7 linked regions of the Homo sapiens genome follow. The protein of the gene in region 7 purifies or fractionates together with the protein of the main gene of each other region. This does not show direct contact. Each region holds a gene or a part of one and is shown on either strand. Other genes may lie near its edges. The genes, in order: ZNF578, TTC4, TOM1, ZNF549, PARP12, ZNF222 and DDI2.

What was found.
Region 1: the proteins of DDI2 (region 7) and ZNF578 purify together in Homo sapiens (co-immunoprecipitation; one large-scale study listed by IntAct). This does not show direct contact.
Region 2: the proteins of DDI2 (region 7) and TTC4 fractionate together in Homo sapiens (co-fractionation; one large-scale study listed by BioGRID). This does not show direct contact.
Region 3: the proteins of DDI2 (region 7) and TOM1 fractionate together in Homo sapiens (co-fractionation; one large-scale study listed by BioGRID). This does not show direct contact.
Region 4: the proteins of DDI2 (region 7) and ZNF549 purify together in Homo sapiens (co-immunoprecipitation; one large-scale study listed by IntAct). This does not show direct contact.
Region 5: the proteins of DDI2 (region 7) and PARP12 purify together in Homo sapiens (co-immunoprecipitation; one large-scale study listed by IntAct). This does not show direct contact.
Region 6: the proteins of DDI2 (region 7) and ZNF222 purify together in Homo sapiens (co-immunoprecipitation; one large-scale study listed by IntAct). This does not show direct contact.

What each region holds. Positions count from the first base shown.
Region 1 is NC_000019.10:52,498,553-52,502,052, forward strand, and holds part of ZNF578 (zinc finger protein 578), read left to right. Parts: intron 1-3,274; 5' UTR 3,275-3,293; coding exon 3,294-3,356; intron 3,357-3,500. UniProt on the Homo sapiens protein: May be involved in transcriptional regulation.
Region 2 is NC_000001.11:54,732,861-54,736,360, forward strand, and holds part of TTC4 (tetratricopeptide repeat protein 4), read left to right. Parts: intron 1-768; coding exon 769-850; intron 851-3,500.
Region 3 is NC_000022.11:35,302,894-35,306,393, forward strand, and holds part of TOM1 (target of Myb1 membrane trafficking protein), read left to right. Parts: intron 1-3,500.
Region 4 is NC_000019.10:57,525,922-57,530,155, forward strand, and holds the start of ZNF549 (zinc finger protein 549), read left to right. Parts: upstream 1-1,434; 5' UTR 1,435-1,652; coding exon 1,653-1,685; intron 1,686-1,688; exon of another isoform or gene 1,689-4,234. UniProt on the Homo sapiens protein: May be involved in transcriptional regulation.
Region 5 is NC_000007.14:140,028,452-140,031,951, reverse strand, and holds part of PARP12 (protein mono-ADP-ribosyltransferase PARP12), read left to right. Parts: intron 1-3,263; coding exon 3,264-3,339; exon of another isoform or gene 3,340-3,340; intron 3,341-3,500.
Region 6 is NC_000019.10:44,024,142-44,028,178, forward strand, and holds the start of ZNF222 (zinc finger protein 222), read left to right. Parts: upstream 1-1,237; 5' UTR 1,238-1,295; coding exon 1,296-1,337; intron 1,338-1,884; exon of another isoform or gene 1,885-1,930; coding exon of another isoform or gene 1,931-1,945; intron 1,946-2,881; coding exon 2,882-3,008; intron 3,009-3,256; coding exon 3,257-3,349; intron 3,350-4,037. UniProt on the Homo sapiens protein: May be involved in transcriptional regulation.
Region 7 is NC_000001.11:15,665,958-15,669,457, forward strand, and holds the end of DDI2 (protein DDI1 homolog 2), read left to right. Parts: 3' UTR 1-3,087; downstream 3,088-3,500. UniProt on the Homo sapiens protein: Aspartic protease that mediates the cleavage of NFE2L1/NRF1 at 'Leu-104', thereby promoting release of NFE2L1/NRF1 from the endoplasmic reticulum membrane.

The sequences.
Region 1 (3,500 bases), on a different chromosome or scaffold from region 7:
TTGTGTATTTTTAGTAGAGACGTGATGTCACCATATTGGCCAGGATGGTCTTGAACTCCTGACCTTGTGATTTGCCCACTTTGGCCTGCCAAAATGATGGGATTACAGGAATGAGCCACCTCGCCTGGCCGCTTTTTTTTTTTTTTTTTGTAAGACAGAGTGTCACCCTATCACCCAGGCTGGAATGCAGTGGAACAATCTTGGATCACTGCAACCTCTGCCTCCCGGGCTCAAGTGATCTTGCGTCAGCCTCCCAAGTAGCTGGAACCACAGATGCACGCCACGATGCCTGGCTAATTTTTTGTATTTTTGTTAGAGATGGGGTTTACTATGTTGCCCGTGTTGGTCTCAGACTTCTTGGCTCAAGTGATTGGCCTGCCTCAACTACCCAAAGTGTTGGGATTTCAAGGGTGGGTCACCATTCCTGGCTGGTCTTGGAATTTTCTAGAGGAGGAAGACCAAGGCAGCCTATTGGCCCTTTCAGGCCATCACATTGGAATCAGCCACACCTCCTTCCTCCTCACCTCAGAGCTTCTCAGGATAACTTGGTGAAATGTCTCCCGCTGTGAGCCTTAGTGAGCCCACCTGTAACATAGAGGTGAGGAATAAGATCAGAAAAGCTCAGTCAGTGACACTGACCCCTGAAACGACTGACAAAATACAGTGTGTGACTTTTCTTCTGGGAGAGGATAATGGTCATTTTTAACTCAAATTTCAAATGAATTCCAGTTCTCCAAGATGAGCAAAAACAGGGGATTAGACTCAAATCACCTTGAAGGTTATCATCTCACAGCTTTCACCCACCTACACGACTCCATGTCCCCTGCAGGCCTCAACCCTGAGCTCTACAATCCTGTGTCCAGTAGTCTCCTCAGCTCTCTCCTGGGACATCAAACAGGCATCCCCACCTTCAGCTGTCCATAAGTGACTTCCTAAATCCCCAAACACATTCCCTTGCAGTCTGCACATCTCAGATGAGAGTGAATGTGTACTTCCGAAAACTTAGCTGAACTTGACAGCACATATTTTAAATATGGGAAATACATTACATTATTTGTAAGTGTTGTAATTTATAATACATAGAGAAACGTACATGTATATGTGAAAAGAGTGAGAAGATACATCACTTCCAAATCGTTTTTTTTTTTTTGAGATGAATTTTCACTCTTATGGCTGAGGCTGGAGTGCAATGCCATGATATCAGCTCACTGCAACCTCTGTCTCCTGGGATCAAGGGATTCTCCTGCCTCAGACTCCCGAGTAGCTGGGATCACAATCGACTTTCAAAATGCTTTTGGGTTGTGGGAGAAAAATGTTTGAAGACCATGTCCCTATGGGTCTGTGCCCCCAGGACCTCTCTGACCTCATCTCCTACCTGTGCCCTCCTCTCTTCCACTGTTCCAGCCCCACGGGCCGCTTTCCTTTTCCTGGGGCTGAGGTTGCTCCTGTCTCAGGGCCTTCACTTGAGCTGTCCCTCTCTCTAGGATGCTCTTCCCCTCAGCTGCAAGTGACAAGCAGCCTTTCTTTCCTAGGTCCTTGTTCTGATATCATCTTCTCCGGGTCTCCTTTGTGATCTCCCACAGCCCTCATTCGACACTGCGGCTGTGAAATCAGAAAATCTTACAGAGATCTCAGTTAATTTAGAAAGTTTATTTTGCCCAAGGTGGTCGGCGCAGAGCTTAATTTTATACATTTTATGGAGACATGAGACATCAATCAATATATGTAAGAAGTACGTTGGTTTGGTCTGGGAAGGTGGGAGAACTTTAAACAAAGGCAGGAAGACTTGAAGCAGGGAAGGGGCTTTTAGGTCACAGAGAACTGAGGCACAAATGGTTGCAATCTTTTGAGTTTCCTTTTTTTTTTTTTTTTGAGATGAAGTCCCATTTTGTCACCCAGGCTGGAGTGCAGTGGCACGATCTTGGCTCACTGCAACCTCTCCCTCCTGGGTTCAAGTGATTCTCCTCCCTCAGCTTCCCAAGTAGATGCCCAGATCATTTTTGTATTTTTAGTAGAGATGTCTTTTCACCATGTTGGCTGGGACGGTGTCGACCTCTTGACCCCAAGTGATCTGCCTTCCTCGGCCTCCCACAGTGCTGGGATTACAGTCCTGAGCCACTATGCTGGGTCTTTCTTTTGAGTTTGATTAGCCTTTCAAAGGAGGTACTCAGATAGGCATGTATGTCAGGGAGCAGAGGGGTGACTTTGAATAGAAGGGGAGTCTGGTTCCCTAAGCAGTTCCCAGCTTGACTTTTCCCTTTTGCTTAGTGATTTTGGGCCCCAAGATTTATTTTCCTCTGGTCCACATTGACTGTTTTGTGTGACTTTTTTTTTTTTTTTTTTTGAGATAGAGTCTTGCTCTGTCACCCAGGCTGGAGTGCAGTGGTGGGATCTCGGCTCACTGCAACCTCTGTCTCCTGGCTTCAAGCAATTCTCCTGCCTCAGCCTCCTGAATAGCTGGGATTATGGGCACCCGCTACCATGCCCAGCTAATTTTTGTACTTTTAGTAGAGAAAGCATTTCGCCATGTTGGCCAGTCTGGTCTTGAAGTCCTGACCCTGTGATCCAGCCGCCTCGGCCTCCCAAAGTGCTGGGATTATAGGCGAGAGCCCCTGCGTCTGGCCTCTTTGTGATTATTTTTGTGCCTTTGTCATCCACTGTCTGGATCCTGGTGAGAACTTGGCCCCAAGCGGAGGGCAGAGCCAGAACGTGGGGCTGTGCTGGGCTCGCCCCCTCTGAGTGGAGCTCAACCCTGGCTTCACATTAGAGTGCGGAGCATTTTGCAAATAGAGCTTTTGTGCCGCTTTAGCAGGGATTCTTATTCTGACGGGATGGAACCCACCCTCAGTAATACCTGCAGTGGCGCAGGTGCTTGTCATCTGTGTGCAGCATTGAGCATGGAAGCTCTGAGTCCTGCATTTCTGAGGGCTGAGCTCAGCCTGTGATCCACAGAGAGGTGAGGGGCTGTCCTCTGGATGCGGTTTGATCAGGGATGGGTCTGTGCCCTGAAGGAGAGATCAGTCCAGCCCAGCTCCCCACTGCTGCCTCGTGTGTGGTGGCTGCTCCAGGAGGGGGGCGAGATCTGAAGACCAGGGTCAAACATACACTTATAGGTCTTCCTGTGGGACTTTCTTATGTCTGCATGATCTCTGGTGCAGTGGGCAGTGGGGGGGGCTTCTTTGTACAGGGTGATGTCTCCCCGTTCCTGTGTTTTTATCACAGGAAGGGAGTGAGTCATATCTAACCTGAAGTCTTATTTTTCTTCCACATACAGGATTGATTTCTAAAGACTCATGTTACATGAGGAAGCAGCTCAGAAGAGGAAAGGAAAGGAGCCAGGCATGGCTCTTCCTCAGGTGAAGTGATATTCCTCTGTGGATTAATCTGTCTCTTTCCTTTCTGAAGTGTAGTAGTATTATATTGTATTGTAGTAATGTATTGTAACAGCCAGTCTTTTCTGAGTCTGAAGCATTTTGCCTGACACGTTTGCTTGCACTCAC
Region 2 (3,500 bases), about 39 Mb from region 7:
GGATCACTAGAGGCCAGGAGTTCAAGACCAGCCTGGCAAACATGGCAAAATCCCGTGCCTAATAAAAATATAAAAAATTAGCCGGGCATGGTGGTGCATGCCTGTAGTCCCAGCTGTCTGGGAGCCTGGGGCACGAGAATCACTTGAACCCAGAAGGTGAAGGTTGCAGTGAGCAGAGATTGTTCCACTGTACTCCACACTCCAGCCTTGGTGACAGAGCAAGACTTTGTCTCAAAAAAAAAAAGAAAAGAAAAGAAAAAAAGAAAATCCTGTCAGTCAGGTGCAGGGCTCACACCTGTAATCCCAATAACTTTGGGAGGCTGAGGCAGGAGGATAATTTGAGCCCAGGAGTTTGAGACCAGCCTGGGCAATATAGGGAGACCCCCATCTCTACAAAAAAAAGAAAAAAATTAGCCAGGCATGGTGGCATGTGCCTGTAGTCTCAGCTATGCAGGAGGCTAAGGTAGAGGAATTGCTTAAGCCCGGAAGTCGAGGCTACAGTGAGCTGTTATCATGCCACTGTACTCTAGCCAGGGTGACAGAGCGAGACCCTGTCTCAAAAAAAAAAAATAAAATAAAATAAAATAAAATTATGTCATAATAGGACAAGTGATACATATACACATTTGGGGTACTGCTGTCAAATGGGTTAAGCCTGCATTTCATGTTTTATACATTCTAGATAACTTTGAATTAGTGTCTGGGGACCGATGTGGGAAAATAGATCATGAGTTATTGATACCCAGAAAGTACATGTTTTATCCTTAGGTTTATTGATCATCTAATGGTGATGTTTGGTGAAACACCCTCTTGGGACCTAGAGCAAAAATATTGCCCTGATAATTTGGAGGTAAGAGAAGTTTTATTTCGTTCCTCTATGGAATTAATTTTTTTTTTTTTTTTTTTTTTTTTTGCGGCGGGGGAAGCAGTCTGCTTTATTTTTTTGAAAATTATAGTAAAATATACATGACATAATATTTACCATTTTAACCATTTTTAGGTATATAGGTCAGTGGCATTAAGTACATTCACATTGTTGTGCAACTATCACCACCAGCCATCTCCAAAACTTTTTCATCTTCCCAAATTGAAACTCTAAGTACTTCATATAAGTGGAATCATACAGTATTTGTCCTTTTATGTCTGGCTTATTTCACTTAGCATAATGTCTTCAAGGTTCATTACATATTGTATCATGTGTCAGAATTTCCTTTTTTTTTTAAATTTTTGAGACGGAGTCTCGCTGTTTCACCCAGGCTGGAGTGCAGTGGTGCGATCTTGGCTCACTGCAACCTCTGCCTCCCAGGTTCAAGCGATTCTCCTGCCTCAGCCTCCTGAGTAGCTGGGATTATAGACGCGTGCCACCACACCCAGCTAAGTTTTGTATTTTTAGTAGAGATGGGGTTTCACCATGTTGGCCAGGCTGGTCTCGAACTCCTGACCTCAAGTGATCCACTCACCTCCGCCTTTCAAAGTGCTGGGATTATAGGTGTGAGCCACCATGCCCAACCAGAATTGTTTTCCTTTTTATTTATTTTTATTTTTTGAGACAGAATCTCGCTCTGTCACCTAGGCTGGAGTGCTGTGGTGCAATCTCAGATCGTTGCAACCTTGCCTCTTGGTTCAAGTGATTTTCATGCCTCCGGTTCCCAGGTAGCTGGGATTACAGGCATGTGCCACCAAGCCTGGCTAATTTTGTTTGTATTTTTAGTAGAGATGGGGTTTTGCTATGTTGGCCAGGCTGGTCTTGAACTCCTGGCCTCAAGTGATCCGCCCTCCTTGGCCTCCAGAAGTGCTGGGATTACAGGTGTGAGCTACCGTGCCCAGCCAGAATTTCTTTCCTTTTTAAGGCTGAATAACATTCCATTGTTGGGATTTTTTAAATAAAAAATCACAATATCCAGTATAAAGAATTACCTTTTTCTAACATTTGAGAGTAGGATGCCAGCTGATGTCCCATTACCCCTGAATACTTTACTGTGTATTTCCTACACAAAAGGACATTTTTCTTTATAATACCCATATAGCTATCAAAGCAGGAAATTTACATTAATTCACTGTTACCATCTAACCCTCAGACTCCATTCAGGTTTCACAAATTCTTTATAGCAAAAGGGTTTTGTTCAGAATCACATACTGTATTTAGTGATCATGTCCCCTTAGTCTCCTTCAGTATGGAAGAGCTCCTCAGTCTTTCCTCCACTTTTTTTTTTTACTTAAAAAATTTTTATTCATATTTTTGTGATCCTGTGACTCAACTGCAGGACACTTTGAAGATTACAGACCACTTATTTTGTAGAATGTCTGTCAGTATGGGTTTGTCTCATGTTTCCTTCTGACTAGATTTGGATTATACATACTTGTTTGTTTGTTTTGAGATGGAGTTTTGCTCTTGTTGCCCAGGCTGAAGTGCAATGGTGTGATCTCGGCTCACTGCAGCCTCTGCCTCCAAGGTCCAAGCGATTCTCCTGCCTCAGCCTCCTGAGTAGCTGGGATTACAGCTACTCAGATACCACGCCCAGCTAATTTTTTGTATTTTTAATAGAGATGGGGTTTTGCCGTGTTGGCCAGGCTGGTCTCAAACTCCTGACCTCAAATGATCTGCCCGATTTGGCCTCCCAGAGTGCTAGGATTACAGGTGTGAGCCACCATGCCCGGCCTGGATTATGCATATTTGGCTGGAATATTACAGAAGTGATGCTGTATTCTCATTGCACCTATCAGATGGTACATAATCTCCATTTGTCCCATTACTCATGATGTTCACTCTGATCACCTGATTGAGGTGGGGTCTGCCAGCCTTCTCCACTGTACAGTTACTTTTTCTTTATGATTAATAAGTGTTTTATAGGGAGATGCTTTGAAATGGTGTAAATATCCCATTGCTCGTCAGATATTCAACATATTTATTTATATTGGTGGATTTATAGTTTCCTGTTTCATTTAATGAGTTTTAATCTGTTACTATGATTGTTTCTTTTATGCTCAGAATATCCCAGATTTGGCCAGTGGGAATCTCTTCAAATTTGTTTCTGTGTCCTTTTGACTTGTGTCTATTTTTTAAGTGGTTGCTTTCTTACATAGGATGTTCTAGGTTCAGATTGCGCTTTCCTTGCCCCAGCTCTGGAATTAGCTATTTTTTCCCAAGAAGCCCTGGTTCTTTCTAGTGAAGAATGGTATTTAGAAGCCGAGATCTCTGTGCAATAAGTGTATAAGTGTATCGATTAATACAATGGGGGTAGAGAGGCAAGCTTACTGCCTCAATGCCTTCTCAGTGCCACAGCTTGGGGGAGAAAGAGAGAGAAAGAAAGAAAGGAGAGAGAGAGAGAGAGAGAGAGAGAGAGAGAGAGAGAGAGAGAGAGAAGAGGAGAGGAGAGAGAAGAGAGGAGAGAGGAGAGAGAGAGAGAGAGACCATGAAGTCTCATTGGTATCTCCAACTCTTAATTCAACATCCACAGGATTTTTTCTCCCTTTCTATATTTGTAACAATGACTTTCTTC
Region 3 (3,500 bases), on a different chromosome or scaffold from region 7:
CTCCCTGGCTGTGATTACTGATGACACAGTATAGCTGCTTATAATTCTGTAAACCAGGCCCCTCCTTGCTGCAGGAGTACCATCTCTTCTCAAGCCTGCCGACTCCCATGCCCTTGTTGATAGTAGAGCTGTAGAGCCATATGGAATTGACATCCCTCAGATGGTGATTCTAATGATGCTAATCAGGAATGAGTGTCAGTCACTGGAATCACAAAGTTCTCATCCACCTCCCCTCCCAACACACACACACACACACCCCTTTGTGCTTGCTGGTCCCTCTGCCTGGGTTGCTTGCTCCTGTGCCCCCACTGAGGAGCTCCAGATCACCCTTCAAAGTACAGGGCATCATCACCTCCTCCCTGAGGCTTGCCCCAAGCCCGACGTTGCTCTTTTACTCTCCCTTTATCCTAGATCCTCAGGCCCCCTTGCCCTATGACTTTGGGCTCTGAATCTCCGCTTCCTCCTTGGTAGAATGTTACTAACAGCATCTGCCTCACAGGGTGGTTGCTGGAATGAAACAAGATAGTCCTCTGAGAGTGTCTCGCACAGTGTGAGTGTATGGAAACATTAGCTCTTCCTGTCATCATCACCATCATCATTTTTATTATTTCTTTTTTTTTTTTTTTTTTGAGACAGAGTCTCAAAAAAGGCTGGAATGCAGTGGCACAGCCTCAGCTCACTGCAACCTCTGCCCCCCAGGTTCAAGTGATTCTCCTGCCTCAGCCTCCCGAGTAGCTGGGATTAGAGGTGCACACCACCATGCCCGGCTAATTTTTGTATTTTTAGTAGAGATGGGGTTTCACCATGTTAGCCAAGCTGGTCTTGAACTCCTGACCTCAAGTGATCCAGCCACCTTAGCCTCCCAAAGTGCTGGGATTGCAGGTGTGAGCCACCACGCTTGGCTTATTTTTATTATTTCTACCCTCATTATACTAATATGCCACCGTCCCACTCTGTTAGTGGTTGTGCATGTCTGTCTCCACAGCTAGGCTGAACCTCTTGAGAGCAGGAACTGTGCCTTATTTCTCCAGACCCTCAGCACCTAGCACGGTGCCTGGCACATAGCAGGAAGGAGGAAGGGAGAAAAGGAAAGTAACATTTTGTGAGCAAACACCATAATAACTCTGCCAGGTATTCTGCTAGCGTCCTGGGTATTAATCTCATGGTGACCCTGTGCGGTTTTGCTATTTTTTTCCCATTTCACCAAAAGTCAGTCTAAGAGAAAGCATCGCTTTCCAGGGTTCCACAGCCACTCAAGGTCAGAATCCAGACCCAGGTCTTCTTTTGTACCCTCACCACACTGCCTCGAGCTGCCCAGTGCTTCTTTTGAATTGATGTCTGTCCCACCCTCCAAGAGCCACAACTCTTATTCTACCCTCAGATAAGGACATGTACATGGGTCTCACACTTGCAGGCCCCTCCCCTCATCGATGAGTAGGGGAGCTTCCCAAGGGCAGCACCCGTAGCTGAGAGGATTCCAGATCCTTTGTACCAGCTGGTGTTGTCACAGCCCTCTTCTTTCAAGGATTTCAAACCCTTTCCAGATATTCTCTGCAGACAAATCTTACTGGATCTGTTTTGTTTTTTGTTTTTTGTTTTTTATGAGACAGAGTCTCACTCTGTCGCCCAGGCGGGAGTGCAGTGGCGCGATCTCGGCTCACTGCAAGCTCCACCTCCCGGGTTCACGCCATTCTCCTGCCTCAGCCTCCCAAGTAGCTGGGACTACAGGCACCCGCCACCACACCTGGCTAATTTTTTGTATTTTTAGTAGAGACGGGGTTTCACCGTGTTAGCCAGGATGGTCTCGATCTCCTGACCTCATGAACCACCCACCTCGGCCTCCCAAAGTGCTGGGATTACAGGCGTGAGCCACTGCACCCGGCCTACTGGCTCTGTTTTATAGACAGATATCAAGAAACCCATTTTCCATTTCTGGCTGTCAGCTTACCCCTAAGCACTTGGAGTCCAAATCCTAGCTGATTGCCAACAGTAAGTTGCAAACAACAGAGATGGTAAATATGGGCAGTCCCTGGGGATGAGCCTCAGTGGTTGGGGTGGTGGGAGCTGGGTGTGAGGGGAGAAGAGCCCAGAGCCTGAAGACTGAGCCCTGGAGGGGAAAAGTGAAAAAGTCAGAGAGAGCTGTCTTTGAATCCACAAAAGCCAAGCCGGGGGAGCCACAGGAAGGAATCACAGAAGTGAGAGACCACTTCAGGCCCTTGGGGGCCAGTTGGGGAATGATGGGCTGGAAAGTGGACACTTAAGCGATGTTGAGGAGACACCAGGCTGGGAGGCGGGACACCTGGTTCCAGCTCTGGTTCTGCTCCTAACTATGTCACGGTCCCTCTCCATTGCCCATCTCCCCTATTGGCAACACAGAGGTGCTGTCATTCTCCCTCTGCTTCCCAGAGGATTGGTAAGGAACGACAGAGGTCATATATAGGGACAGGGAAGGGTTGATGCCAGAGGGAAGAAAGAAACTGATGGCGGGCCAGGCACGGTGGCTCACGCCTGTAATCCCAGCACGTTGGGAGGCCGAGGCGGGTGGATCACGAGGTCAAGAAATTGAGACCATCCTGGCCAACATGGTGAAACCCTGTCTCTACTAAAAATACAAAAATTAGCTGGACGTGGTGGCACACGCCTGTAGTCCCAGCAACTTGGGAGGCTGAGGCAGGAAAATTACTTGAACCTGGGAGGCGAAGGTTGCAGTGAGCCAAGATCACGCCGCTGCACTCTAGCCTGGTGACAGAGTGAGACTCAATCTCAAAAAAAAAAAAAAAACTGATGGGTGCTGGGGAGGACTGATAGAACTGAATGTGCAGGGCTCCAAGGGCATGGTGTGTGGTTACAGGAATAAGCAGTTCGGTTTCAGTATAAATAGCTATCCCCAGAGCCTTGCAAAGATGGAACTGGCTGCCTTGTTCAGTAGTGAGCTCCCCACCACTGGAGCTGTGAAGGCAGAAGCCGGGGTGGGGAGGGCGACTATAAAGAGGATTCCTGTGTTGGTTAGCAGACTAGACCAGGGTCAGTGAGCTTTTTCTATAAAGGGCCAGATAGTAAATACTTGTGGCTTCGTGAACCAGATGGTCTCTGCTGCAACTACCCAGTTCTGCCATTATAGCACAAAAGCAGCTACATAGGCCATAGGTAAATGAATGAGAATGACTGTGCATAAATAAAAATATTTATGGGCAATGAAATTTGAATTTCACGTAATTTTCACATATCATGAAATATTATTCTTCTTCAGCTTTTTTTTTTCCCAACTATTTAAAAATATAAAGACCATCTGTAGCTCGAGTACCATACAAAACAGACTGAATTTGGCATATGGGTTCATAGTTTGCTGACTTCTGAATCGGAGCAGCTGGCCAGAGGCAGAATGATGGAGCACACTGTTCCTCAAAGTGGGGTACCAGAGCACCCACACTGGGGATGCTTGAGGGTGCTTATCCCCACAGTGTGCCCATGTGAGCCCTAATATCTTGAAGCTTCTGTTT
Region 4 (4,234 bases), on a different chromosome or scaffold from region 7:
AGCTAAACTCCCCCTCCCCTATTTAGATCAAGGTATAAAAAGAAATCTAGCCCCTTCTTCGGGGCCAAGAATTTTGAGCTCTAGCTGTCTCTCGGTCGCTGGCAATAAAAGGACTCCAGAATTAGTCTCAGAGTGTGGCATTTCTCTATAACTCGCTCGGTTACAACACTATAGCCAAAGATTACATTCATAAAGATATTTTTACAATATAGGTGTCTTATTTAATATGACTCCAATCTAAATGGTAATTTTTCTAACCTTTCTTAAGTAATTATAAAATGTCAAAATTATAAACAATTAAAAACTAAAGAGAAATGAAGACAATGGATAGCAACAAAAGCTAATTGCTAAATATGGGGGAAAAAAGCCAGGCATGGTGGCTCATGCTTGTAATCCCAGCACTTTAAGGCAGGCGAATCACTTGAGGCCGGTTCTAGACCAGCCTGGCCAACATGGTGAAACCCTGTCTCTACTAAAAATACAAAAATTATCCGGGGGTGGTGGCGCATGCCTGTAGTCCCGGCTACTCGGGAGGCTGAGGCAGGAGAATCGCTTGAACCTGGGAGGTGGAGGTTACAGTGAGCAGAGATTGCACCACTGTACTCCAGTCTGGGCGACAGAGTGAGACTCTGTCAAAAAAAAAAAAGGAAAAAAAGAAAAGAAAAAGAAGATATAATGTTTCTGCAATCTCATTTCAGTTCCACTTATGATAATAGATACATTATGTAATTTAAGTCACTAACACTTGAGGGCAAAAAAACAGAATAAACACAAACGTGTGGGATAAGGGGATGCTGACCCCACTGTTAGTGATCACCTTGGTTGGAGACCCAGGTTTTATCATACAGATGAAGCCTGCAGGTAGCAAGTTTCAGAGAAATAGATTGTAAATGTTTCTTATCAGACTTAAGGTCTATGCTGATGTTATTGCTGTAGGGGTAGAATGAGGCATGTCCAACCCCTTCTTCCATAATGGCCTGAACTAGATTTTCAGGTTAACTCTATAATGCTGAGAGGAGGGGGTCCATTCAGATAGTTGGGAGGCCTTTGAATTTTATTTTTGGTTATAGTTTCTACATTAAAAAAAAGAAAAAAATTAAGGGTCGCGTCAATTCTCAATTGTCAACATTTTTAATGTATTGTATGCAATATATGTCAACTTTTGTGTTGAGAAATGAAGATCAAATCGTATTCTTTTATCCTGTGTATGTAATAGGCTTTGCTGACCCTAGTTTGATGGGTTTTTTCCTTTGTCCTCTCTTTCTTGGATTGAGTCCTCACAGCGCGGCGGACTGCGGCGTGGTAGGAACTACACCACCCAGAATACTGTGCGCCGAGCGTGCCGGGGCCTTAGACCAATCATTGCCCAGGAAAGGGGCACCTCCGTAAGTGCGCAATACGCCAGAATCTTCCGGCGTCTTTCCGGTGGTGGTCGTTTTTGCTGCCTGCGAGCGCGTCCGCGGGCTGGGCGTTTCCGGCTCGCTGGGTCCGGGCCAGGTAACTGGAGCCGGAAACCGGTGGAGGTGGTGTCCGCCCGCAGAGGAGCTTGCCTGGTCTCGGTCTGAGCGTCGCCCAGCGATTTGCCACCGCACGCACGCCGGATCCCGGGCTTTACCGCCCGCCTTTCCAGGCCCCGCCCCGCCTAAAGTCCCATGGCCGAGGCAGCGCTAGTGATTACGCCGCAGGTGAGAGCGGAGTCCTCGGATCCTCACCTGGGTCCTGAGGCCCCGGACTGGGGTCACCTGCGTGGGTCTCTGCAGTTCAGGCCTCTTCTCCAGGACAGCGAGGAGTTCTGGGTGGGGTCCTCAGAGCTGACGGGCGGTGAGGTGAAGAAGGGAGAGCGTTGCGTACCGTGGGGGCTGCACGCGCAGAGCCTGGGAGGTGCGCCGGGGTCGCGAGCATTCGGAAACTTGGGGGCGGACCTGTGTCTGCAGGGAGCAGAGAGAATGAGGAGAAGAAGGCACGGCTGCCATGGCAGCCTGAGCAACCGGGGTTTTTAATTCTGAGTCTTTGGGAGCCATGGAGGGTTGTGAACTAAAGGAGAACACGATCTGAGTGAGGGTCTGAAAAAATATTTCAAAGGCAATGAGTGGAGAAAACAGACTGTTACGGAGTGATGGGGGTGGACGCAGGGATACTGGTGAGGAGACTGCTGTAGTAGGCTCCAGGAGGATTATGGTGGATTCTGGACCAGACGGGTTGCTGAAGGGACCTAAGTAATAAGAATCTTGGTAGATCTTAAAGGTAAAGCCAGCAGGATTTTCTGCTCCATCATTTGTGCCTATGAGCAAAAGTGGGAGTGAAGTATGATCCCAAGTTTTTCTTTTACCTGAACATCTGGAAGAGTTGACAAAGAAATCTGGTGAGGGAGCAGGTTTCAGGGAAATAGTAGGAGTTGAATTTTGGACGTGGTGTTTCTAAATTGCCACAGAGTGAAGTTGTTACATGGGCAGTTGGAATCATAAGTAGAAAATTCATGGGAGGGGACTGACTCAGTGATGTGTAAATGGAGACAGGCTGGGGCGTAGACTCAAGCCAAGCCTTAAATTTAGACGGGAAATCTTAAGGTTTTACTTTGAGATGAAGAGAGGGAGGGCTGAGGCTGGAGGCTGGGAAAGTGTGGGTCGGCCTTGGCGAAGCTGCCTGCAGATAGGAGGGCCATGGGGTTCCGGGGGTACTTCCAAAGGGAATGTGTAAGGAATACACACTGCATAGGATGGATTTGAGGGTGGGACACTGTGTAGAGTCACCATTCAGAAGACTTGGCGAACTGTTCACTCTATGTGGAGCCAGAGAAAGGTCAGCCAGACTAGCAGAGAAGCCCAAGCCCAGCAAGAGCAGCTCTCCCAGGAAAATACAAGTTTAGACTGTATAGATTTAACAAATTAAATTTATGCAAGCAATTAGTTAACCGAATAAAATGTCACTATAACTCTGTGCTCTAATAAAAAATAAATGTTTGTTTTTTGTCATGCTTTCCTGGCACAGAATTCCTAAAATCGTTGTAATTTCCTCAGTGAAAAGTGTCTTGTGATAAGTCATGGACCGCATAACAACAGTGTTGACCACATCAGTGACGGTGGTCCCATAAGATTATGATACCATATTTTTACTGTACCTTTTCATTTTCTTTCTTTCTGATCAGGAGGCAAACTGCATTTTCTAAGTTTATAAATGTTTAAATGCACAAATAATTATCACTGTGTTACAGTTGCTGACAGTATTTAGTATAGTAACTTGCTGTACAGGTTTGTAGCCTAGGAGCAATAGGCTATACCATTTAGTAGTTGAACAATGAATGTCTGAACAGTAGTTCCCCCTTATCCTCAGAGGATACCTTTCAAGAACCCCAGCGGAGGCTTGAAACTGCAGATAGTACCCAACCTATATATACTATGTTTCTTCCTAGACTACATACCTGTAATAAAATCCAGTTTATAAATGAGGCAGTATAGGAGATGAACAATAATAACTGGAAATAATATAGAACAGTTATACTTTATAAGTTAATAAAAGTTAAGTAACTGCAGTTGAGACAATAAAAAAGCAAAAGTTAAATTATAAAAAACATGTGAATGTGGTATCTCTCTAAATATCTTACTGTACTATTCACCCTTGTGATGAAGAAGGGACTAAACTCGATAGAGTGAGATTTCCTCACACTACTTACAATGGTGCACTGTTGGCCAGCGCAGTGGCTCACACCTGTAATCCCAGCACTTTGGGAGGCTGAGGCAGGCAGATCACAAGGTCAGGAGATCGAGACCATCCTGGCTAACATGGTGAAACCCCGTCTCTACTAAAAATACAAAAAATTAGCCAGGTGTGGTAGTGGGCGCCCGTAGTCCCAGCTACTCCGGAGGCTGAGGCAGGAGAATGGTGTGAAGCTGGGAGGCAGAGCTTGCAGTGAGCCGAGATTGCACCACTACACTCCAGCCTGGGCGACAGAGCGAGGCTCCGTCTCCAAAAATAAATAAATAAAATAAATAAATAAATAAATAAATAAAGGATGGTGCACTATTTAAAACATGAATTGTTTATTTCTGGAATTTTAATATTACTATTTTCAGACTGAAGTTGAAATTTAATACTTATAATTTTCACACTGAAGTTGAGTGTGGGTAACTGAAACTGCAAATAGCAAAACAGCTGATAAGGGAAGACTTCTATACTTGAGTTTTATGAGATGGCTTAGGGTGAGCAGACAAGGTGGAGTCTCTAGATAGCCTCAGAG
Region 5 (3,500 bases), on a different chromosome or scaffold from region 7:
CTTTTGACTTTGCCTGTGAAGTATTTTACCATAAATATATATCTCTTATTATTTTAGTTAAATGTATCAGTGTCTTACTGATTCTGGATTTAGAGTTTTGGTTGATTATGACCCTCCTATTTCTGGAAGTCATTTTTTATTCTTTTCCTATACAAAGCCTACCCTAGACAAGGTTTGGAAAAGTCTCTCTGCTTTCTGAGAGTAGATCTCTCTTATTCTAATTTAGTTTTTAGGGGGCCACAAGAAGATGCCAAATGTCCAAACTAAAAGTGATTCAGACTAAGATATGGGTGATTTGGGGTCTCCTGTAAGCGGAGTGTCACACACTGTTCACACAGATGAAGTGTTCAGTTCTTCTCTCTGACCCATGTGCCAGCAGCTGGTTGTCATTAACTCCAGTAAGCAAGTCTGCCTGGGCCTGCATGGCCAATTGGGAATCTGAGGGTAGATCACTTTCAGAAACAACTTTTCTGTTTACACAATTAATGAGGTCATAAAATGTAATGTCCATATTCAGAAGTCATAATACAGGAGTGTCATGTAAAATTTATTTATGTATTTATTTATTTATTTATTTATGAGACAGGGTCTCACTCTGTCACCCAGGATGGAATGCAGTGACCTGATCACGGCTTATTGCACCTTCCACCTCCCGGGCTCAAGCAATCCTCCCACCTCAGCATCCCAAGTAGTTGGGACCACAGGCATGCGCCACCATGCCCAGCTAATTTTTTTATTTGTTGTGGAGACAGGGTCTCACCATGTTGCCCATCCTCTATGAAAATGTTTCATTCATGTGATTGGGTCTTATTTTTTCTTTTCTTACCTTCTTTTGTGTATATGTATATTTTAAAGGCTATGGTAGAAACTACATGTTCTTCACTTAAGTACAAGTAAATCAATATCTTTGCCCTCCTATCTTTTCTTCCATTTGCCTTCCTCTCAACTTTTTTTAAACCTCAAGAGGCACCATTATTTTATACTCTGAAAGTTTCATTAAATTTACTCACATTTTTACCACTTTGTCCTTTCAGATTACCTTAGATCAGGGGTGTCCAATCTTTTGGCTTTCCCAGGCCACATTAGAGGAAAAAGAATTGGTCCACACATAAAATACACTAACACTAACGATAGCTGAACTAAAAGAATAAAAACCACAAGAAAATCTCATAATGTTTTAAGAAAGTTTACAGATTTGTGTTGGGTCACATTCAAAGCTGTCCTGGGTTACATGCAGCCTGCGGGCTGCAGGTTGGACAAGGCTGCCTTCGATGAAGATTTGTTGGAAAACTGTTTTTGGTTTGTCTGAATATGTATGTACGTATGTATGTATGCATGTATGTATGTATGTATTTTGAGATGGAGTCGCACTGTCGCCCAGGCCAGAGTGCAGTGGCATGATCTTGGCTCACTGCAACCTCCGCCTCTTGAGTTCAAGCGATTCTCCTGTCTCAGCCTCCTGAGTAGCTTGGACTACTGGCGTGCGCCACCATGCCCGGCTAATTTTTGTATTTTTGGTGGAGATGGGGTTTCATTATGTTGGTCAGGCTGGTCTTGAACTCCTGATCTCAAGTGATCTGCCCACCTCGGCCTCCCAAAGTGCTGGGATTACAGGCGTGGGCCACTGCGCCTGGCCAACATGTATTTATTTTGCCATCAATCTTGAAGGAAATTTTCACTGGGTATAGAATTTTGGGTTGTAGGGATTTTCTCTTGGATCATTGTGATGATCACTCCACTGTATTCTGGCTTCCACTGTTGCTTTTGAGAAATTGCCTGTTGGTCTAACAGGTGCTTCTTTGACAGTAATCACTCTTTTTTCCTTTGGCTACTTTTAAGAGCTTCTGTTTGTCTTGGAGGTAGGCATCCTCACTAAAGTGTATCTAAGTATGTGCTTTTATTTATCATGGTTGAGATTCTTTGGGCTTCTTAAGCTGCGGATAGGTGCATCTCATCAGTTCTCTTTGAAAATCGCCTCCACTGTCTTGTCTCTCCTCTCCTAGAGCTTCACTTAGGTTCTGATCATATTCAAGTTCTCACTGTTCTCCATGTCTCAACTTCTTTCCTGCATTTTCCATTTCCTTGTTGCTGTGGGCCACATTCTGGACAATTTCATTTCACATATGTTTCAGCTCACTGATTCTTCCTCCAGCTGGTCTAATCTGCTATTAAGCCTGTCCACTACACTTTTATTATTAAAGATTGTACTTAATTCTGTAAGTTCTATTTGGTTCTTTTTTAGATCTTCCAGGTCTTTTTATAGTTTCCTGTTCCTTGCATATGTTTTTAAAGTTTGTCTTTTTTTTTCCTTTAAACATAGGAAGAATAATTGTTTTGTAATCTCTCTGATAATTTCAGCATCTTAAGTCTTTGTGGGTCTGTTTTTGGCTGATTCTTGCTGGTAGGACCTTGCTTAGTTATTTTTGAACTGTGCCATTTTCCCAGGAAAGTTATTTGTGGGAGTTCTTTGAGGCTTAGGATGAAGGTATATGTTTCATGCCAGCAGAAACAGAAGGTAGATCTATTTAGAAAGAACAGTGTATTCTGAAACTTAATAGGAATGATTTGTAATTATAGTTTCACAGTCCTTGTTCCTGAACCCTTGATCCATATGTCTTTTGAACTGCTTTTATTTAATTTTTAGAAAGATAATGTGATGCTTGTATCACGTGACACTCTGTATTTTAGCACATTAATATTTCTGCAGTAAACAATATGCATAGTCAGTTTAAGAAGGATAGATACAGATCACAGTGGCCTCTTACTAACTTCAGTCAAATTTCTACTGCCAAATGACTTTTGATGTCACTTTTATGTTTTTCAAAAAATGTTTTATTTCATATTTTCTCCTGCTTTTCCTGAGCTGTATAAAAAGTTTTAAAATGTCAATTATACCTCATCGAGGCCTTAAAAAAATGTCTTTAGAGCTCTTAGAATTTCAGAATTGTGGATAAAGGTTTATGGCTGTGTGTGTGCTCCTTTAACCATGTACTCCATCCCTTTTATCCCTTTTGTGTGGTAGTTGGGACACAGGCGAGAAATAGATCTCTCAGGACTGTTTGGAGTTTGGCTACATAGGCAAAGATAAAAGTGCTCTCATGTTGTGAATATCGTGCTAACATTCTTCCTTGCCTTCTACCTGCTCTTGAAATATGATGTGCTGAGACTCAAGACTGGTGATATTGGCTAGCAGAGACCACCTATGGTATATTTGCTTTGTGTAAGAATAAAATGTCTACGTGTTTTTGTTTACATTTTTGTAGCAATACCAAGTTTCCAGGCCCGAAGAGCATCCCAGACTATTGGGACTCCTCTGCCCTGCCAGACCCAGGCTTTCAGGTAGGGGACGCATGCGCCTGGGGCTGGACAGGAAGGTGTTCTGTAGAAGTGGGTGTGTGTGAACAGACTGTGCCATTCCTCAACACTGAAGAAGCTGTAAGGCTGGGGCTAATTGGGGCAGGAGGGCAGTGACAGATGTGGGCTTTATTTTTGTTTTTGTT
Region 6 (4,037 bases), on a different chromosome or scaffold from region 7:
AGCATTAAATAAATAAATTACTTAGGAACTGTCTTAACCAATGACAAGAAACACTTGGACACTGAATTTTGCAACATCTTACTAAAGAAAATTAAAGAAGGCACCCCAGGCATGGTGGCTTATGCCTGTAATCCCAGCACTTTGTGAGGCCCAGGCAGGCGAATAACTTGAGGCCAGGAGTTCGAGATCAGCCTGGCCAACCTGGTGAAACCCCTGTCTTCACTAAAAATACAAAAATTGGCCAGGTATGGTGGTACGTGCCTGTAATCCCAGCTACTTGGGAGGCTGAGGCAGGAGAATCGCTTGAACTCAGGAGGCGGAGGTTGCAGTGAGCCAAGATTGTGCCACTGCACTCCAGCTTGGGCGACAGAGTGAGACTCTGTCTCAAAAAAAAAAAAAAAAAAATTAAAGAAGGCGCAAATAAATGGAGATATATCCATTATTAATGGATTGGGCGACTTGATATTGCAAGGCTGTCAATACCTATATCTATAGATTCAATGCAATCCTTAATCACAGTAACATTTTTCTCAGAAATGAAAAAATCCACCTGAGATTCATGTGAAATATCAAGGGACACTCTCTCCCATGGTCATATTTTAGACCTCGTCATTTTCTAGCAAATATTCCTCCATAATAATTTGCAGCACTACTCTCCAACAACTTTGACTTGTATTTCCACCTTGGTCCCACCAGCATGCTAGCATCAGTAATATTAGAACCTCGCCAATACCTACAGTCCACTGAGACGATCACCTTTTTACTCTTTCAACTCCTCGTGTACTCACAGCCTGCCAAGCACATTTCTTGTCAGGAGAGGACAGCTCACTTCTCCTAATGTCTCACTTCCCAAAATTGTGTCCCATGAAAATTTCTAGCTAGATGAAGGCAGAGAAAGAAAATATTTGATTTCTTAGGCTTTATGGAAGCGATAGGAATGGCAATAGTGGTTTGGAATGGAGACTGCACGCACCAGTCAACAGGGTGTGTCCCGAATAAGCAGTGGGTAAAGGACATTTACTGAAATGCTATCTCCAACTCCACTTCAGGAAAGCTTGCTGCAGAGTTAGAGTGATATAGTCCAAATGCTCTGTTTGAGTCGCGGGCCCTTTGTCTCACACGGGCGAGTCCGGGGAATTCTGGGAAGTGGAGTCCACACGCTCTGTGGAGGCTCGAGCACTTCCGGTCCCCAACTGTGACGTTGCTATTTCATTTACCACAGTAGTTTGAGTCATTTCCACATCTTGCGAGTCCTTCCGAACGAGTCTCCTTTCCTTGGGGCTCGCAACCACCCAATGATCGATTCAGGAGAAAAGAAGCCTGGGCGGAGAGCAGAGGTTTGGAGGGGCGCGGGCGGGGATTGCCGTTCCAGTCAGCTGAGCCTTCTGGCGTCGGGGGGCTCTGCTAGGGTCTCAGGGAGTGGGATTGGCGCGGCCCGGTGTGCCCTACTTTGACCTCGCTTAGTCCGCCTCCCTCCTCCCTACGTGTGCAGCCCCTTTCAGTGTGGTGTGGAGTGTCACTTAATGTCCGTTTATCTTCCATTGCTGGTTCGTTTGTTTGTTTGTTTTGTAACGGGACTTTTCGGACCATCCTAATGGATTCATTTTGGGACCTGAAAGAGGTAACACAAATGAGAGCCTTAAAAGCAGTCCCTGTCACTCGGTGTCTGGTGGTCTCTTGTTAATTTCCCACGAAGCCTGTCAGGTCCTCTGGTGGGGTCAGAGCTCCAGCTGCAGGGGCGCCGGCCCTTCTGCCTGATCCCTGCAGGACGCTGGATGATCCCTGACGCCTTCTGACCTCTTTTTAGGAAAGTGAGGGGAGCATTTAACTTTTATGGGGGACGGCAAAACGGTCAGGGTGTTTCACAGCTTTCTTTTTCCCCAGCCCGACCTTTCTAAAAGAGCTGCAGGAAGGGACTTCTTGGCTACTGATGGCAAAGCTCTACGTGAGTGATCCTTGGCTTTTTTTCTTTGACAGAGATGCTTACCTCAACCGAGAGTGTGTAGGATTTGTCCCTCGGGCATGGGTGTCGATAATGATTAAGCCTTAATTGGTAACTTTATTCCAAGTACTTTATACCCCAAAATACATGATCTTCACAGTGGCACTGTGGAGAGGTGCTGCTTTTTTCATTTTAAAGATGGGCGTGAGACACAGGTGGAGCAGGAGTTGAAACCTAGGCAGTCCAGGTTAGAGCCTGAGTTGATCATCTCTTGAATGCAATTCTCATTGAGGCAGAGGTACTAGCTGGGAACAGGTGGAGAACGTAAGTTAGGACTTGATTGAAGGCACCTTGAGGCAAGGCTCAGGGGCTTGGACTTCTATAGGAGTTTTTGTTTGTTTGCTTTTTGCTTTTTAATTTTTTTAACCTTATCTACTATTTTCTTTCTCTCTCTCTCTCTATATATATATATATTTTTTTTTTTACAGAGTTTCGCTCTTGTTGCTTAGGCTGGAGTGCAGTGGTGCAATCTTGGCTCACTGTAACCTCCGCCTCTCGGGTTCAAGTGATTCTCCTGCCTCAGTCTCATTTTCGTCAAAGGGCCCGCGACTCAAACAGAGCATTTGGACTATATCACTCTAACTCTGCAGCAAGCTTTCCTGAAGTGGAGTTAGAGATAGCATCTCAGTAAATGTCCTTTACCCACTATTTATTCAGGACACACCCTGTTGACTGGTGTGTGCAGTCTCCATTCCAAACCCCTATTGCCTAATCAGTCATTGTCAGGACACAAACAGAATAAGTAGGAAATCTATAAGCTGACCTATGTCTCTCAAGATCCAAAACAACTTTACACTTGTCCCTTGTGCCAGTGCAATGCTGCTGTCTCCCAATAGTCTTTGGCCGTAAGATTGAGGTGACATCTGCTTGATGTTGTAGGAGGCAGTGACCTTCAAGGATGTGGCTGTGATCTTCACTGAGGAGGAGCTGGGGCTGCTGGACCCTGCCCAGAGGAAGCTGTACCGAGATGTGATGCTTGAGAACTTCAGGAACCTGCTCTCAGTGGGTGAGGACGGGCACCCCCTGTAATGGAATGTCAGGCCCCAGGAGTGGTTTTTTAATCCTAGGGTTTTCAAGTTTGAGTGTGCAGTGAGAACCTACATTTCCAGTAAATTTTGCCTGGCTATTAGGTTGGTGCAAAAGTAATTGTGGTTTTTGTCATTGGAAGTAATGGTACACTGCAATTACGTTTGCACCAACATGATATTACCTTGAACATGTTGGGATTAAGCATGTGACTTTGCCTGTTCACAGGGCATCAACCATTCCATGGAGATACTTTCCACTTCCTAAGGGAAGAAAAGTTTTGGGTGATGGGGACAACAAGCCAAAGAGAAGGGAATTTGGGTAAGAACCAAGCAATTGTGTGTCCCTGCATGTGATTCCTGTTACTTCTGTCCATGCCCATTTCCAGCATTTTGGGGTAAATGGCCAAACCTGTTTCCTGGATTATTACAGCCTTCTCCCTGCTGATGCCCCTGCTCCCACCCTTCCCACCCTGCCATCTGTTCTTACGGTAGCCAAAGTGATCCGTAGGAAACGGAAGTCACATTGCCATTCCTCAGCTCAAAGCCTTTCTGGCTTCTTGTTTTTATTAGTGTTACAACCTCTTTAAGTGGCTTTTGTAGACCCTGTGATCTGCCCTTCATCCCACACTGTCTGACTGCATCTCCTGTCCTCTCCCCCTTGCTCCATCTTTTCCAGGCACCTTGTCCTCCCTGCTGTTTCTCTATCCTGCCAAGGACATTGTATTGCCTATTGTGGCCGGTGACATAAAACTCAGCAGACTGAACAAGAAACACTTATCTTTCTCTTCTGTAGGCCTGAAGTCTGACACATCTCACTGGGCAAAAATCAAGTGGTCTTAGGGCTTTGTTCCTTTCTGGATGTTCATGGGGAGAAGACTTCATTTTGGTTTACCAGTCTCTAGTCACTGTCCACACTCCGTGGCTCTTGTTTCCCTTCCTCCATCTTCAAAAGCAGCTACATTGCATCCCTGACCATTCTTCCATAGTCATGCTTCCTCTGCCACTCT
Region 7 (3,500 bases):
TTGGAGTTGGTGACTTAGTGTAGTCTGTGGCTGACCTAGAAAGACACAGAGTTATCAAGAGTTTCCCTTCCTAGAAGATGAATGTTACCTTTTGTGTTAGGAGGTAGAGAAAATAAAAATAGCTTTTTTTTCCCTAGAATTGCTAATTACTCTTAACAACAAATTAAATTCAAAGCCTGTCCTTGAGAACTGGAAATGTAAAATCATGGTTCAAGTTTTATACCTTAGTGATTCCTCAGTAGGTGTTACTAGGAGTTCACTGAATGAACTTAGGAGTGAACCTTCGATGTGCTTGATTTTCTTTTGTGCCTTAGTTTCTCTGAATAGCAGAGGCATCAAATTTTGGTGGGGAATGAGAGGAGTATTAGGGGAAAGTTTGAAAATAGCTCTCCTGGAGATGGAGGGCACACAGAGTGGTCCTCAGGCTCACCTTGACTGAGTTGATTCACAGTTATCCTGCATCAGACCATTAGATTTCTTTAGTGCTATGATTATAATAGGGATTTTTGAATCACCAAAAACAGTTTTTAGATGTTTATGTTCTTTGTTTTACTATCAATGTTGTGCTGGTTAAGGGAGAGAAAAGTTCAAGAAGATCTTACATATTTGAAAGGAAATTGGTACTCTTGAAGGCTATGCAACATGAGTCTTTGAACAAGAATTCCTTGCTACTTTGATTCATTCATCAAATACTGAGTGCCTGTGTGCCAGGCACAGGTGAACTCTGGGGATTCAGGGGTAACTAAAACAGATTGGAACCCTGCCCTTGTGAAGCTTTCAGTCTAGAAGGGAGACGTGAAACAAATTTTAGCTTCAAAAGCAACATCTATTTTTGCCTGTTAGCATGCATTTATTTTAAAAGTCATATTAGAGTTACCTGGTTCCACTTCAGAGCAGACTGGGAAAATCAGGCTTACAATGGAATCAGATGCTGTGGGCCTAAAACAGCTCTTTAAAAATCTATTTTTTTAGGCCAGGTGCGTTGGCTCACACCTGTAATCCCAGCACTTTGGGAGGCCAAGGTGGGTGGATATGAGGTCAGGAGGTCGAGACCAGCCTGGCCAATATGATGAAACCTTACCTCTACTAAAAATAAAAAATTAGCCGGGCATGGTGGCACATGCCTGTAGTCCCAGCTACTCGGGAAACTGAGGCAGAAGAATCGCTTGAACCCGGGAGGCGGAGGTTGCAGTGAGCCGGGATCACGTCACTGTACTCCAGCCTGGGCAAGAGTGAGACACCGTCTCAAAAAAAAAAAAAATTTTTTTTTAAATGGAATCAGAGAAACCAACAAAATATGTAACATGTATAAATGCCTGAGGAGATCAGTTATTGAGAAATCCATTTACAATGCTGGAGGAGAGGGGATGGCCAGGAAAGAAGTGCAACAAATAAATGGAAGATGACCCTAAAAATGCACCAGTGACAGTCAGTCAATCCATCAGACCACCTCACATGCAGGGTAGAAACATGGAGTGTGCGGCAGCATCCTCCTCACATCCCTTTGTGAGCACGGCTGCTCCGGAATACTGACCATCTGGGCTAGCACGACTTAGCAGAGGGTTCTGCAGGATGTGCTATTTTAAAGCAGCTGGGTGCAACTTGTGAAAACGGGAATCTAGAGCAGAACATGTAATCAGCGATGGCTGGGATTGGTGGACAGGATTGACAGGAGTATTTGAGGCTCTACCAGGCCTGTCTACAGGACAGCTTCATCAAAGGGACATTTTTTAACCTGTTATTTTAAATGCCACATATATGTTGTAATGCTGAAGCATACAGGTAGAATTTCTGGATCGTAACTACTAGTGACTTCTGAGGTTTACAGTTAGAAAATGTTCTCAAAGGTTTATCAGTTATGTATTGATGATTGGTAATCTAGACCCTCTGGAGGCTGTAGAATGTGAAAAGATACAGCTGAGCTGACAAGTTTTAGGGCACTATCTTCTGGAATGAAATCGGCCAAGAAAATGGTTCAAGGGCATGGGGGTTAGAGAATGTTTCTTTTACCTAAAAATGTTAAGCCAACTATGGAAGATTGGGGTCGTGGGGGCATGAAATACAAAATTATGATAATTTATACAGAACTAGGTTTCTTTATGTTCTGCAAGAAGGTTTTTATTAGCTAATTTGGGGAGGGGGGCATGCTGCAGTATTTTTTTTCCTGGGAACATGCATTTCTGATGGGAAGTTATTTTGTTTACAAGAGTTGGTTTTACACACAACCCTGAATGAATGTGTCTATGGCCTAAAAATGGTAGACCTGTATTTCCTTCCCGAGGCAGGCTGATTCGTTTCCTGATTCCTTCTGTCTGAGATTACCTGATGCTGACCAGACTTATTTTTCCTTTCCTGAATCTTCACAGCTGAGTTTATGGCACCCATCCAAGACCTTCCCATTTGAATGACTAGATTTCTATTCTATCCCCGATCATCCTTTTGAAATAGTTCTAGTGATAAACTCAGAGAAATTCAATATATTGATTGAATTTTATTTTTTCGCTTTGTATCTACAACAGAAATTGATTTGTTCATTTTTATTTCAAATCTCTTCATGGCAAGTTGGGCTAATGGACTTTGCACTCAAGAAAGGTTTGTTTACCAGTTTTGTAGCCATGTTTGGCAAATCTTAGCAACTAGAAACCCCGTCCTTTCTTTTCCTTCTTTATATGTTCTTGCAGTTACTCTTGTATTGCAAGATTTTCTGACTTTAAGCTTTGAGACTACTGCATCTTAAAAGAAGAACTAGGCTGACTGGCAAAAAGTCTTGCCAGTGGCCCTGTCACTCCCATGATGCTTTGGTTTTGAGAGTTGGGAAAACTCTGAGAACTTAAGGGAACCAAACTCAGGAATCCCAAAATTGGTGGCATTGTGCCATTCGTTTAGGGGCTGAACATAGGACCTGTCTGAAACTGAGTGAGCTAGATGCATTTGGGTTTGAATTTTTGTCACATACTGAAATGTAAGTCAGCCCTAAATAATCAAAACACTTTATTTTATTTTTCTTTTTTTAAATAGGAACTTTCTGAAGAAAAAGTGGTGTGTAAAACATTTGATATTTAAGACAATAAAGTTTTTATCATAAGACTTCTGTTTGATCAATTTCTTTTAAATTGAGGTGGTTACTTCAGTTAGACAAGGTGGTGTCCTTGTCTCTATCTCCCTACTCCTTTAAATAGCTTATACCCAGACATTGTAATTTATGGCGTGTACCTGAACCCCAGAAGAAGTGGGCCTCTCAAAGCCATTAACTTCCAGATTAGTACTGCGGGAGGACAGCTCCCTGCTGATGTAAAAGATGCGCATTTTGGGCCAGGCACGATGGCTCACACCTGTATTCCCAGCACTTTGGGAGGCCGAGATGGGCGGATTACTTCAAGACCAGCCTGGCCACCACGGCGAAACTCCCATCTCTACTAAAAATGAAAAAGCTGGGCGTGGTGGCATGCACCTGTGGTCCCCACTACTCAGGAGGCTGAGGTGAGAGGATTGTTTGAGTC